Regions from separate parts of the Homo sapiens genome. Here region 1 is linked to region 2. Evidence: fine-mapped expression QTL. Tissue or cell type: unexposed skin. Region 2 holds a variant in brackets; the other region holds the start of a gene. All regions are shown on one strand. Distances are between the middles of the regions.

Region 1 (7,273 bases), 21 kb before region 2:
TTAAAGGATATTTTCACTGGATATAGAATTCTGTGTCGACAGTCATTTTTTTTAAGCATCTTAAGAACGTTTGTTTTGTTGTTTTCTGGCTTGCATGGGTTCTGACAAGAAGTCTGCTAGTAGTCTTATCTTTGTACTTTGTATATAATATACACCCCACCCCCAGCTGATTTTCTTTGTATTTATCCTGCTTATGGTTCATTGAGCTCCTTGGATTTATGGATTTATAGTTAGTCAGATTTGGGAAATTTTGGCCATTGTTTCTTTAAGTATTTTTTCTGTTCCCCTCCCCTTTTTCCAGTACTCCAGTTTTACATATTTTAAGTCACTAATATTATCCTAATTACTGAAGCTTTGTACTTTTTGTTTTTTGGTTCTCAATCTTTTTTCTGTGCTTTAATTTGGATAGTTTCTGTTCCTGTCTTTAAGTTCACTGACCTTTTATCCTGGAGTATCTAACCTGCCCTTGATTTCATTCAGTGGAGTTTTAAAATTTCATTTGTTTTTCATGCCTAAAAGGTCTATTTGGTTATTTTTTTCATATCTTTGGTTTCTCCTTCATTTTTGTAGTCTGTTGCTACGTAACAACTTTCTCCAGAAGTTAGCACCTAAAACAGCAGGCATTTGTTGTCTCGTGAAGTTTTTGAAATTCAGGAACCCAGAGCAGTTTAGCTGGATGGTTTTGGCCCAGATTCTCGTCAGAGGGTGCAGTTAGGGGCTTTTGTCCTGGGTTGCAAAGCTGAAGGCTTGACAGGGGCCAGATGATGTGCCCAAATTCATTTAGGTGGCCCTTGGCAGGAGACTTCACTTTCTCTCCATATGGACCTCTCCATAGGTCTGCTTGAGTGTCCTCACAACATGGCAGCGTTCAACGCAGAGTGAGTGTTGAATGAGTTAGGAAGAGACAGACAGAGCCAGCCCAAGATGGAAGCTACAGTGTATTTTATAACATAATCTTGGAGTTGATCTACTATCACATCTGCCTTTTTTTTTTTTTTTTTTTTTTTTTTTTGAGACAGAGTCTTGCTCTGTCACCCAGGCTGGAGTGCAGCAGCACTGTTATAGCTCACTGCAACTTTGAACTCCTGGGCTCGTGATCCTCCCGTCTCAGCCTCCTGAGTAGCTGGGACTACAGGTGCACACCACCATGCCTGGCTCTGCCGTTTTCAATTGATCATGTAGGCCAACCTTGGTATGATGTGGGAGGAGACAGCACCAGGGTGTGACTGCCAGGAAGCAGGGTCGCTCAGGGCCATCCTGGGAGCTAGCAGCCATCCCCTTCACTGTGTTCAGGTTTTCCTGTAAATTCTGCAGCATATTTATAATTGCTGTTTTAAAATCCTTGTCTGCTGATTTCATCATTTCTGGACTTATTTCTATTGGCTGAGTTTTCTCCTAGCTATAGAACACATTTTCCTTTTTTTGCATGCTTAGTAATTTTTGATTGTATGATGGTAATTGTTAATTTTATGTTAAGTGTATGAAAGGGTGCAAATTTCCTTGTTCTTTCTTTGAAGAGTATTGGGCTTTTTCTGGCAAGCAGTTAAGTTATTTTGGGGTCAGCTTGATCCTTTCAAGAACTGTTTTCACACTCTCTTGGGGCTTGTATGGATTTGCTTTTATTCCAGGGCTAGTTTAACTCTGCTACTAAGACATGACCCTTCTGAGGTTCCTAGCAGATGACCTGGGTGCTCAGCAAGAACACTTGCTCTGGCTGGTCGGCATGTGCCTGTCCCCGGTCCTGCGTGACCTCTGGAGTTGTTCCCTGACAGCTCCCCGATGTGCTTGGTTCAGCCTTGTGGAGTTGCATGCTGTGTGCGTAGAGTGTATTACTCAGCAGCTCAGCGAGACCTTTCTCCAGGTTGCCAGAAGCCTTCTGTGCACAGCTCCGCCCTCCACAGATCCTCCCTTCCTCTCAGCAGGACCATCATGCTGAGCTTGAGCTGTACCCCACGGCGCCAAGCCTGGAAGAGACCACTGGGTAGAGCAAGGGGTGTTCAGAGGTTCACTTCATTTGTTTCTCTGTCTTTAGACAGCCCAGTGTCTGTGAACAGTTACTGTGTGTATTTTGTTCATTTTTCTAGTTGTTTACAACATGAAGGCAGACCTGGTCTCAGTTGCCCAGCATGACGTCCCAGATCCACATGTGAGGAGGAGCAGCAGCATGGGGGTTCCGCTGCGAGCTCAGGGCAGGGGTCTGTATTCCAGGAACTTGGGTGGGCTTCATAGACCCCTGTCGTTCCCAGAATTATAGGCAGCACGGAGTGTGCTTGTGCACACTTTCCTGGGTGGAGAGGCACACGGCACCTCACGCATTGAAGCGTTGTGGCCCCTCGGGGAGTTAAGACCCAGTGGGAGGAGGACCAGGGCGGGGGGCCTGGAGATGGAACCGCACCTTCCCATGCTGCCTCGCTAATTCTACAAATACTGTTGACATCCTGTGCGTGTGGCCTTGGGCAGAGGGGTAAAGACCGGGCAGCCCTGGCAGGGGCTCTGGGGCCAAGGATGTCACCTTCTGGGGGTAAGAGCGAGATGTCCTTCCAGAGCCTGGGTTTTGAGAGGAGGTCACCCTGGCCTGGTTAGGATGAGTTGTCATCTTTTAGCTTTTGGTTTGGTTTCTGTTTGTGTTTATTTTCACTTTTTGCCATGGAAAGTTTTAAGCATATATATAAAAATATGGAAAACAGCATCGAGAAGTCCCTGTGAGCCCATCCCACCCTCTTCCCCCTTCCTGGATTATTCTGAAGCAAATCCAAGGTATCGTAATCAATTTAGCTGCAATCATTCAAGTATTGTAGCATGTGTCTCTGAAAGGCTGGTGACTCCATAAAGCCCTAACCAGAGTCCTTTTATTGTGGTAGGACCTGGTCTCGGTGGGTGAGGACAGTGGGGAAAGGGGCAGCGTCCAGCAGGGTGACCACCTGTGCGAAGGAGAAGAGAGACAAAGCACCTGGTGTTGGACCAGACAGGGGGCTCAGGACCTTGGGCTGCAGTTGACCACGTGAGGCCCTTAGCCTCCAGAGAAGGAGCTGGTTTAACATGACCCATGGTTGTGGAGACCTTGCTTCCTAGGTGGGGCTGCCGTGCCCCTACCATCCTCCCACATAAGCACGTTACAGAGATCTGTGGAGCCAAGGGGCTAGTTCACCAAAATAAGACCTGGCCGTGTCCACCACTCTGCTGGTCTGGCTGGGGCTGCCGTCACAGAGCCCCACAGCGGGGGCTGAGACCGCAGATGTGTGTCTCACACAGTTCTGGAGGCTGAAATCTGAGATCAAGGGTCACCGGAGTTGGCCCCTGGGGAGGACTCTCCTCCCGGCTTGTGGACGGCCGCCCCTTGTATTCCTGTGTGGCCTTTCTCCTGTGCACTTGGAGAGCTCTGGTGCCCCTGCTGGATCAGGACCCACCCTTATGACCTTCATCAGACTTGACTTCCCTCCTTAAAGGTCCTATTTCCAAATACAGTCACATGGGGATTAGGTTAGTATCTAAATTTGGGGGACACAGTTCAGACTGTAACAGTTGCTCTGCACAGCCCCGCTCGGTTACATCATAGATGTTTGCACACATCTGTGCACGTGAACTACGTGTTATCTGTTGCACATGCAGCGTTACTAAACAGGGTTCCCTTATACCTCCCGGGGTTCTCGGAGTGGCGTCTTCTCTTTTGCTGGGAACCTTGCCGCCTTTCCTCTCCCTGCCCCTCCCAGCCCGTGGGCCACCTGCTCTCTTCCACGCCTTCCTTTCTCCTCTGCTTGTGCAGCGGAAGGTTCTGCCAGCAGGGGAGTTAGTGAGCAGCCAGTGGAGGGTGTGCCCAGCCTTCCTGCTGCAGACCCGCCCCCAAGTCAACACGGACTTCCCTCCCTGCGCGCCAGAACTTTGCGTTGTTCTTAGTGGCATCTGGGGTCGAGGAGGGCGACTGTCAGCCAGTTGGGGGATGTTTTCTTCTTGGTCTCTCGGCTTCTGCTTCCCTGTGAGCTGGGCAGCCTCAGCCCAGGTCCTATCCGGTACTCAGCTGGCCTCGGTGTGCACAGCGCAGGCTTGAGTGCAGCCGTGGGGGCGGGCGGGGCAGAAGCAGGGCCCCTGGGAACAGCTGAGTCTGAAGGGTCAGAAGCCACGGCCCCTGTGGGGGGCTCTGGGGCAGCCAGGGGAGCTGCTCGTTAGTCGTCTCTGGGGCAGAAGGAAGGGACCTTCACCTGGGTTGGGACTGGGCCTGGGTCCCCAGTCTCACAGGGAGCTCGTCCTGATTGTACCTGCCCGGCTGTGACGGCTGAGCCCGGGCTCCTGGAGGCAAGGCCACCTCAGGCCTCCAGGGCCGGAGCCGCAAGGAGCTGCTGGGTTTCCACAGGGCCACGGGGGCTGCGGCCACACGGAGCGGGAGCACAGGTGGGAAGGGTGTCTGTGAAAAATGAAATCTGTTGCCGCTTCCTCTAGCTTAATTACTGGCATGGTGGTTGCAGAGTTGAAATGCAGCTTTAAAAGCCTTTGTGAGTAATTAGTGTCAAACACACAAGATCTACAAAGCCATAAACTCACAGCTTGGTGATATTACCAAGTACTAATTAAGAAAGAAAAAAGAAAATTCCCTTTCATGATCAAATTTTGAGCCCTGCCAAAGATGAAAAACAAGGCAATTTGCAGCCGATGGCGACGCCGGAGGGTAAGTGGCGTCCACAGGAAGATGGCGGCCGAGCGCGGCGAGCAGGCAGGGTCTGGTTGAGGGCTGGGGTGGTGACGGCGTGATTGTGCCTGGCTACCGGGTTCTCAGCCAGGCAGCACCTGATTCCCAGGAGAGATGGAATCCCAGCTCAGAAAGGGGAGACTCATGCGAGGGCAGAGGCAAGGCACCCGCCCAGAAGGATTGGGGGTCTCCCCATTTCACAGGTGGGGACACTGAAGCTGAGCTCACAGCCAGGAGAGGGACAGCAGAGTGACGGCCGAGACCATCTGCACTGCGAGGGAAGCAGCGCCCACCTTCCTTGGTGGTCCGGGAAGGCCGGACCGGCCCCTTGGGTCCCCACTGGCCTCAGCCACTGTGGGCTCGTCCAGCTTCAGGTAGGCGCCCGGCCACTCACCTGGGAGGCTCTGAGAACGACAGCTTCTGTCTCGTGAGTGACGTGGTGCCCGCTTTCATCCTGGGGCCCACAGCTGCCAGGAGAGGCCAGGCCGAGGTCAGGAGGCTCAGCAGCTGGTTCCATGACTTCCTCTTCGCTGAGGAGGTCAGGACAGAAGCTTCTAGATGACAGGCCGCCCAACTTGGTATAAAACAGCAAATTTCTGTGCCTGTGCTGTCGGGCTGTGAATGACTTCTCGTCTGTTTCATGAGATGCAGCTTCAGCCCAGGGAGCCATCAGATGCAGCCGGGCGAGACGCGGAGCCAAGAGCTGTCCTCGCCCCCCATGTGAGTGACTGGAGAGACGAAATTCTCAAAGTCTTGTCACTTACGGGGATATTTTTAACCCAGGACCAGGGAAGCACAGCTCTCATTGGTGGCCGAGTGCTCTGGCGCTTGGGCAGTGGGCAGCAGCCAGGTTATCGGGACGTGCTCAGGCCCAACAGGACCCCCAGAGCCGCACCTGCCCCCCACAGAGTAGAGCCGGCCCGGGAGCGGCCTTGGTCACATCTAATCCCACCAGCCGCCGACAGTGGAGAGCTGTGCCTGGCCCAGAGATGTGGGCATCACATCCAGGCTGCAAACACACGGGGACCACCTGGCCCCGCCAGGGTTCGCTCTATCCTGGCTTGGCCTGCATGGCCTCTCGCCGTCTGCATGGTCCACTCACCCGAGTCAGGGCTGGGGCATGCAGGGAGTGTGCAGTGACATTGGGCAGAGGGAGGCTGCTCAGGTCCAAGTAGGCAGAGAAACCGCATGCCCAGGCCGCTAAAACCTTGAACTGCAGGAGCCCTGAGCTGCTGTTGCTGTTTTATTGTTTTGTTTTGTTTTGTTGTCAGATGGAGTCTCATTCTGTTGCCCAGGCTGGAGTGCAGTGGTGCGATCTTGGCTCACTGCAACCTCTGCCTCCCGGGCTCAAGTGATTCTCCTGCCTCAGCCTCCCGAGTAGCTGGGATTACAGGCACCCGACACCATGCCTGGCTTTTTTTGTATTTTTAGTAGAGACGGGGTTTTGCCATGTTGGCCAGGCTGGTCTCGAACTCCTGAGCTCAGGTGATCCATCTGCCTTGGCCTCCCAAAGTGCTGGGATTACAGGTGTGAGCCACCGCGCCGGGCTTGTTTTACTGTTTATGACGCGGCTCTGCTGCCGCTAGGACAGATACTTGTACAGCCCGATTCAAAGACTGTGCAGAGGCGTCTCCCAGATACCCCAGGGTGCACTGCAGTCAAGGAAGGCTGCCTGGAGGAGGTGGCCTGGAGCTGGGGCTCACAGGTGAATTAGAGTTTGTCTGGCTGGGTTGGGGAGATGTTTCTGGCCTCAGGATCTCACGTGCTCATGCTCACCGGCTCCAGGGCACCCAGCGTGCAGGGAGAGCAGAGGGGTAGGCCTCGGGCTCCAGGCCAAAGTTGGGGAAAGAGAGTGTCAGACCTGGGCTTGGGGGACGACTCTGATGTCGTCCTCATGGGGGATGGTTGAGTAAAGGGTGGGGTGTGGCTCACTCGTCTGGCCCTCGCCCATGTGGAATGCCCACCGTGCTGGGCCCCGCTGCAGGTGCTGGACGCGCAGCAGTAATGCGGGGGTCCTGCTCCGCCTGGGCACATCTTCCAGCAGGGATTGGAGGGCCGATGGCCAGGCAGGGTCTGTGCTCTGTGTCTAGGTGGTTACGGGGGGAGGCGGGGAGCCTGGGCCTTGGCTGTGGGTGGACCTGTGGCTTGCTGACCTGGTGCCCAGCTGCCCCACCTCCCAAACTGTGAGAAGCCAGGACCAGCCCCATCCTCCATCCAGATGGTCTCTGACGTTGCCCTGGGAGCCGGGGGGGAGGGGTGGGGGATGTTCTAACTGAAGGGCCTGGGCGGCCTAGAGCCCTTCTGTATCTTCTGGCCAATGGTTTTATCTGGTCCACTGCCTCCCAAGCCTGCACATCCCATCACGCGCATTTAAACTGTTAAAAAGTTACTCCCTTGACTAAGCCGGAAATGCTCTCTATGGCCCTGTGGATCTGCGTCCAGTTCCCCACGACATTCCGTTTTTGGAGGCTTTGTGAAGAGGCTGGGGGTTTGTCAGCCCCACTCGGAAGCGAACAGGCTGGTTCCCCGCCCCAGTCCCAGCTTCTCCTGCGGGCAGCTGGCCTGAGAGCCAAGCACTCCCCAGGCCATGGC
Region 2 (7,852 bases):
GACCCTGATGCCATGGTCCAAGGCCTTCAGCCCCTGAGACTTTTTAGGGAAGGGAGGGCAGCCCTGGCCGTGGAGGCTCGTGCAGAGTTGTGTGCATGGTGAGACTGCCCAGCACTGTTCACAGGCGCTCAGACGGGCACCGCAAAGACCCGTGGACAGACAGAGCTGTGCCCCACCTGGGATTCGCACAAGCCCAACCTGGGTGCCCTGGCCACTGGGTGCCGAGGGGCATGGGCCCGTGTCTCTCACACCTCAGCAGCAGCCCTATGACAGGTGGCCTCAGCGGACTCTGCTGTGGCCACCTGACCAGCGCCACCCACCCCAACCAGCTGGCTGGGCTCACGCTGTGACCCACGCCTGGCGTCTGTGGTGCCACCAGCCAAGATGCCAGCCATGACGCCAGCGTGGCACCCCAAGCCCAGGACATCTGGGGCAGGTGGGTGGGCAGCACCGGCCTCAGCAGCCCACAGAGGGGCCTCCCACAGAGTGTCTGGAGACGCTCCAGGCAGACGGGCAGACGAGCAAGACGCCTGAGGGTTGCAGGCCAGGTGGATAAGGATTGGGGCTTGCATGTGTCCGCAGTGGGGAACCCGTGTGCTCAGCGGCCTGTCTCGAAGCTGTTCCGCTCTTGCAGATATAATTTAGATATACATTTTTCCTAATTACAAATATGCAGCATATAAAAAAATCTGGAAAATGCAGAGAACCATGAGTCACTTTCCATCCCAACACTCCGAGTTAACCGCCATTAACATTTTGAAGATTTTCTAAGGGTCCTTTTGCACTCTGTGAGTGTGGGTGTGAGAGTGTGTGTCGTGCTGCAGTGTGAACTTGAAGGGTTTTCTCACCCCTGAAGTTCAAGGCTGACTCTCGGCGGACGCTGCTGAGTCTTCTCCCCGGCTCGCCCCATGTGTGCATGAAAGTGCCTGGAATGCGTCAGATTCTCAACTTGAGAAGCCCGGAGAGTCTTTTGAAGTTGAAAACACTGATTTCCTTACAGCCTCAAGACAAAAAAAAATCTCCCCTTCGCTGGCTTTGAGAGCAGGTGTCTTCTACAAGCGAGGTTCACAGGGACCTGTGGCTGCCCCGGCAGATGCCAGCCAGGCACGCCCATCTCCTCTCCCACGGGTCCTGGTGGGGGAGCCTCTGTGGGAAGCCTGGGGGCTCCGGGGCCTGGCAGACAACCAGTCCTGCTGCAGCGAGGTGGGGACAAGGCCGGGAGCAGCTCACTTCCCAGTAGAGGCCATCCGATGGCACCAGGGCACGGGGCAGCTGCCGTCCTCATGGCCCGGGGTAACGTGGGCACAGGGTTTCCTCATCCCACTGTGCTCGGTGTCTCCCCTGAGCCCGGTGATTTTACGCACCTGACTTTGTTAGTCTTCTCGGCAATGCCCAGCATGCAGACCAGGCTCAGAGAGGTGTGTCGGTGTGCCCAGGGTCACGCAGCTTCCTGGTGGCCAAGCCGAGGTTAGAAGCTAGTTCTGGTGGGTGTGAAAGCCCCCGACGTCGGCAGCTCTGCCACCAGGCCCACACAAGCAGGTGGTGTAAGAGGGGAGGTGTTGGGGCCGGCAGTGCTCAAGTCAGGATCGAGCCGTCTATCTGGAAGGTCGTCGAGGGTGTGTGGTGGTGGCTGGGAGGTGGTGGCAGGCTAACTACCTGCCGTTTTCCTGCAGTGCCTAGGCCCAGGAGAGGGAGCAGCCCCCAGTCAGGACCCAGCTGCAGGACACCCCATCCTCATGCACCTTGCTTCCCGCTCTCCCTCCCCCCACAAATGGGCTCCCAGCATAACTTCCCCCAAGGGCTCCTTTCCTCTCCTCTCCCCACACACAGCCCTGCTCGGGAGTGGCGCTTGCAGCACACCAAGGACAGGAGGATTGGGCTTCAGGGAAGCAGGCGCCTGGAGCTGTGTCCAGTTAGGTGCATGGCGCTTGCAGATCTGAGCATGGAATATTCATGCCTCCCCCAGCCCAGCAGCTGCGGCTTCTCATCTGGAACAAGGGGGTGCTTCTCCCAGGAAGGCCAGTGGGAGCAGGGGTGTGTCTGAGAACGCCGGGCGCTCTGCCCTCACGATGGCTGCTGATGCCACAGCCCCGGCCTCTGTGCCCAGGCCACTCTCCAGCCTGGTGAAGTCTGTTCTGGGAAAAGAGAGAAGCAAGACAGATGTGGGCCTTGCCCTGTGGGGCCAGGGCACGGGCAGGAATCCCACTTGGGGTTAAGACGCTGCAGTCACCCCCCTCCGGGTTCTGTGCACTGGCCCCTCCAGGTGCTGGGGTCCTCTGTGGCCGTGGCGTTCTAGGAGAGATGGGCAGGGAGACGCTGGCGCCCTGTTGTGTAGCTTGTCCTTGTGTCTGCTTCACAGGCTCTTCCACTGTGCAATTTCCTAAAATTTTGGCGAGGCCCATTTATCCATTTTAATTTTATTCTATGGATTGTGCTTTGGTGTTGAGTGTCAGAGCTCTGCCTCATCCAGATCCTGAAGATTTCTTTTTTAAAATAATTCTGTGTTTTACATGTAAGTTCATGATACAGTTTGAGTTAAATTTTATATGAGATGTGAGGTTTCGGTCAAAAAAAAATTTTTTTTTAACTAAGTGTGTCCAGCTGCTCCGGCTCCAGCTGTAGCAAAGACAAGACTGCCCCTCCTCCACTGAAGCACCTTTGTGACTTTTTTGTGACTTTTCTGTATCGATTAATAGGATCATATGTTGTTTATTCTTTAGCCTGTTGATATAGCAGATTACATTGATTGATTTTCAAATACCAAGCTAGCCTCGTACACCTAAACTAAGTCCCACTTGGTCACGGCATAATATTCTCTGTTAGAAAGTGGCCTGGACACGTCTGTGGGTCTCTTTCGAGTTCCTCTGTTCTGTTCCGCTGGTCTCCACATCTCCCCTCCAGCGCTGCCCCAGCCATGTCTGTCTGATGTAGGAGCTGTATAACGCTGTGCTGTAGCTGTACAGTTCTCAACATCAGGAAGGGCAATTCCCCTACTCTTCTTTTTTGGAATGGCTTTCCATATACATTTTAGAATAATCTTGTGTCTCTCTACCAAAAAAAAAAAAAAAAAAAAGATGCTGGCCAGGCATGGTGGCTCACACCGGTAATCCCAACACTTGGGGAAGCCAAGGCAAAAGGATCGCTTGAGCCCAGGAGTTGGAGACCAGCCTGGGCAACACAGGGAGACCCCATCTCTATGAAAAAAACACAGCCATGAGTGGTGGTGCGCACCTGTAGTTACAGCTACTTGGCACGTTGAGGCAGGAAGATTGCTTGAGGCTGCAGTGAGCCAAGACCACACCACTGCACTCCAGCCTGGGTGACAGAATAAGACCCTCTTTCCAAAAAAAAAAAAAAAAAAAAAAAAAAAAAATATATATATATATATATATATATATATATATGCTGAGGTTTAGACAGCAATTACCTTAAAACCAAAGATCAATTTTGGAAAAATTGATTTACTATAAGTCTTCCAGTTCATAAACATTGTATCTATTTATACAAACATTCTTTTGATTCCTTTCATCAGTATTTCCTAACTTTCTGCAAACAGACACTATACAAGTTTTTGTTAGATTTATACCCAAGTATTTAAGATGTTCTGTAAATTATATTGCCTTTTAATTTTGTTTTTCACTTGTTTGCCATTGCTTTATAGAAATGTGGTTAATTTTTGTATGTTCATCTTATTTCCTGCAACCTTCGTGAACTCACTTAGTGTTCGAGGAGTTTTCTGCAGATTGCTCAGGATTTTCTACATGGGCTGTCACGTCATTCTA[G/T]GAGTTTTCTGCAGATTGCTTAGGGTTTTCCACGTGGGCCGTCACGTCATTCTAGGAGTTTTCTGCAGATTGCTTAGGGTTTTCCACGTGGGCCATCATGTCATTTGCGAGTAGGGACAGTTCTGTTCTTTTCCAATCCCTATGCTGCTGCTTTCCTTTTCTTACCTGCATGCCCTGGCGTGAGGAGCTCCCATGCTGGGTTGAGGATGAGTGGGGAAAGCCAGCTCTCCGCTGACCGAATGAGGGAAGGCGGCCAGACTCCTCCGTGAAGCAGCGTGAGCTGAGGGTTCTTCATGGTGCTTTTTACCAAGTCGGAGGACTTTCCCTTGATTCCTGCTTTGCAAGAGTTCTTGTCAGGAATGGAGATTAAATTTTGTCAAATGCTTTGCCTGTGTCAATAGGATCATATCATTGTTTTCCTTTAGCCTGTTGATAGGGTGAATAACATTGATTGATTTTCAAATTTGAACTAGCCTTCGTTGTACACCTAAACTGAATCCCACTTGGTCAGGGTGTGATACTCTTTTTCGTAGATTGCTGGATTCCATTTGTTAGTACTTGTTGAGTATTTTTGCATCTAAGTTCATGAGAGACTGATACTTATTTTTCTGTGTGTGCGCACCATCCTTGTTGGTTTCAGTACAAGGTTAATAGTGGAAAGGTGTTTCCCTGTCTTTTGTTAACTGAAAAAGGATTGTGTAAAATTGGTATTAATTCATATTTAATGTTCGGTAAAACTTTCTAGTGAAACCATCTGGGACTGGAGATTTTGAGTAGCATTTTAATTACAACAAACTCGATTTATTTAATGGTTATAGGACTACCGAGGCTATTTTATCTTGGCACGTTTTGGTAGTATGTGGTTTTCGACGAATCCGTCCAGTTCGTTATGAGCATCAAGTTTTGTTGTAGTATTTTTTATTGTTATTTTAATAGCTTCTGGATCTATTATAATATTTCCATTTCATTTCTGATATTGGTCATTTCACTCTCCCCCCTTTCTTTTTTTTGAGATGAAGTCTTGCTGTGTTGCTCAGGCTGGAGTACAGTGGCATGATCTCGGCTCACTGCAAGCTCTGCCTCCTGGGTTCATGCCATTCTCCTGCCTCAGCCTCCCAAGGAGCTGGGACTACAGGCACCCACCACCACACCCAGCTAATTTTTTGTATTTTTAGTAGAGATGGGGTTTCACTGTGTTAGCCAGGATGGTCTCGATCTCCTGACCTCGTGATGCCCTGCCTTGGCCTCCCAAAGTGCTGGGATTACAGGCGTTCCCCCTTTTTAATCTTTGTCAGTTTTGCGAGGGGTTTATCAATTTATTGTTGCTGGTCTTTTTAACAAATTTTTGAGACAGGGTTTCACTCTGTTGCCCAGGCTGGAGTGCAGTGGTGTGATCATAGCTCACTACAGCCTCAAACTCCTAGGCCCACGTGATCCCACATACCTGGGGCTACAGGTATATGCCACCACACCTGGCTGATTGATTATAGAGATGGGGTCTCACTGTGTTGTCCAGGCTGGTCTCAAACTCCAGGGCTCAAGTGATCCTCTCACCTTGGCCTCCCAAAGTGCAAAGATTACAGGTGTGAGCCCCTGCTCCTGGCCGGCCTTATTGCTATTTTTTAAAGAACCAGTTTTTGGTTTTAATAACTGTCTTTTGTTTTCCTATTCATTCCTACTTTTATTATTTCCTCCTCCTGCTTCGGGCTTGTTTCTCCCTGCGTTTCTTGAAGTAGGAATTTAGAGAAGCAATTTGAGATCTTTCTCCTTTCCTGATACTGGCATTGAGTGCTGTCTGTTTCCCTCTAAGCACTGCCTTGGGTGCGTCTGGCAAATTTCATTATGCTGTATTCTTGTTTCCATTCTGTTCTCTTTTTTATTTCCTTCGAGGCATCCCATTTGACTCGTGGATTACTTAGAAGTGTGCTGTTTGATTTCCAGGCACTTACAGTTTTCCTGTTGTCCTTCTCTGACTGGTTTCTGGTTTTGATGTCCACTGGTGTGGCCTCCACCTCTTCACACCACCCCACAGATGAACAGCATTCACATAACTTCCCAGTATCTCGAAGTAGCATCGTTTCCATTTCCTGCGTGTCTTCTCATTTTACTGCATTATTTCAGCTTTGCTTGTTTGAGCCAGGATTCAGGGCTTCCTTCATTCCATCTCTAGCTTCCTCCCCTTGAGTTTCCCCGTTCATGGAGTTTCTCTTGGACCCTCAGCAGCAGGGGGTCTTGTTCTTGACAGGAATCCCTCACACTTCCCCCTTGGCCTCCGAGCCCCACCACATCCTGCAGTTGGTGGTGTGTGGAGAGAGGCGCTGTCTCTGCTCTCCAAGCACTTTGTCAGCCTCCACCCCTCCCTCACTCCGTGCCTCTTGTCCGTGCCCGCTGGGACACCATGGGGCTCGGCTCGGGATGGTGGGACCAGCGCTTAGTAAGACCCCTCAGCCCTAGGCACCGTGTGAGCACTGCTCACGTGGCAGAGCTGGAATGGGGGCCGGGCACACACTCCCTGGCCCACGTGTTCCACGGACGTGCTGCAGAGGTCCCCGGCCCTCCAGGGCAGGCCCTCTCTGCTTCCAGAGGGGCAGGTGAGCCCCAGGCCAGGCCAGGCCAGCCGGGGTCTGGACTGGAGTGCAGTGGCCACAATGGACGCCGCGAGTGTCTTCATTAAGAGTGAGTGTCTCAGTCTCCCCCAGGGCACCCGCCAGCCACATGGCCGCTATGTGTGCAGACTAGACAGGTGGCAGCTCGGGCCGGCCAGACAGAGGGAGAGGAAGCCAGAGCCTGCGCGCAGGCAGCCTCATAAATATTTCCAGCCACAGCCAACGTGTCTTACTGACAATTTGCTTTTTAAAAAATTGCGCTCTAATTTTAAGTGAGCAGCCCCTAATTACAGTGATTTACGAGGTACCTGGGGACTGTGTGATATTTGAACATGGCAGAGGGCTGAGCAGAGATGGCAGAGATGGATGGGCCCGGTGCCACTCATTCAGCAGGTCCTGCTAATGCCGGAGTGTTGGACCGAGGTGGAGCCTCCCAATGCGGCCGGGTATGCTGGGGGAAACGGAGTCAGAGGTGGGCTGCACGGCAGGTCGACTTGTTCACAGGGGGCTGGTGTTTTGCAAACGCTGGGTCTGCCTTCGTGTAGGGTTTGAGCTGGGAGAGTAGCACTGGTCACTCCTGCCTGTCTCCGTCCACCCCCACCCCCACCTGGAGGGCAGTGCGGTATCTTAGGGCGTCATTCTTCCAGAGCCGCCTGAGGCCAGCAGAGAGGAAGTGCTGTAGGAGCCGTGAGTGGGCGGCCCGGCCTACCATTGGGAGCAGCTGTCTTGCTGATGCTGGCAGGGTGCACCTGTTTCAAATAAAGAATGATCAGAGATCACACCTGTAATCCTCACGTCATGAGCAGCTGAGGCAGGAGGATCACGTCAGGCCAGGAGTTTGAGACCAGCCTGGGCAACATAGCTAAAGCCTATCTATCTCTCAAAAAAATTTAAAAATTAGCCAGGTGTGCTGGCACATGCCTGTCATTCCAACTGCTCAGGAGGCTGAGGTGGATCACTTGAGCCCAGGAGCTCGAGGCTGAGTGACCCATCATCATGCCACTGCACTCCAGCCTGGGTGACAGAGTGAGACTCATCTCTAAAAAAAAATTGTTTTAGAAATGAACAGCCAGGCTCCCAAAGCCTGCCAGCCTCTGAGGGCCGGGGAAGGCGGGTGCCTGGAGAACAGCTATTCTTTGGTCCAGCCTGGCCAGAGTCTGCACCACAGTGCCCCAGGCCCAGCCAGGTTGCCAGCCCTGGGTTGGGAGGAGGGCGAAGGGCCGGCTAAGGAGACTTCTTCCCACACTGCCTCCCCACCCCTGCCCAGCAGCTGCAGGAGAATCAGCCCCTCTGACATTTAGGGGGAGAAATTCAGAATCAAGAGCAGAAGGCAGAAATGAAAGGATTTTCTCAGTGAAAGGTCAGAGTGGTTTCTCTTGTTTTTGTTTAAAAATGGTTTGTGTTGAACTATGACAAGGCCAAATGTACTAAGGCAGCAGAAACAGGGGGAGGGCAGGGGGAGGG

The links. PIP is the estimated chance that this variant, and not a neighbour inherited with it, causes the effect.
Region 1: it holds the start of LINC01659, and the variant in region 2 is fine-mapped to the expression of LINC01659 in unexposed skin (GTEx, PIP above 0.99).

The regions. Positions count from the first base shown.
Region 1 is chr22:23,429,676-23,436,948 of GRCh38, forward strand. LINC01659 (long intergenic non-protein coding RNA 1659) reads left to right here and starts at 3,889. Exons shown (of 3, transcript NR_110538.1): 1 at 3,889-4,386; 2 at 4,885-5,055; 3 at 5,149-5,396. RefSeq lists enhancers at 1,565-2,410, 5,977-6,668.
Region 2 is chr22:23,450,736-23,458,587 of GRCh38, forward strand. No RefSeq gene overlaps it. Among named protein-coding and RNA genes, the nearest start is that of LINC01659, 21 kb to the left of the region's middle. RefSeq lists enhancers at 1-404, 951-1,597. The variant G/T (reference allele first, on the strand shown) is at 3,783.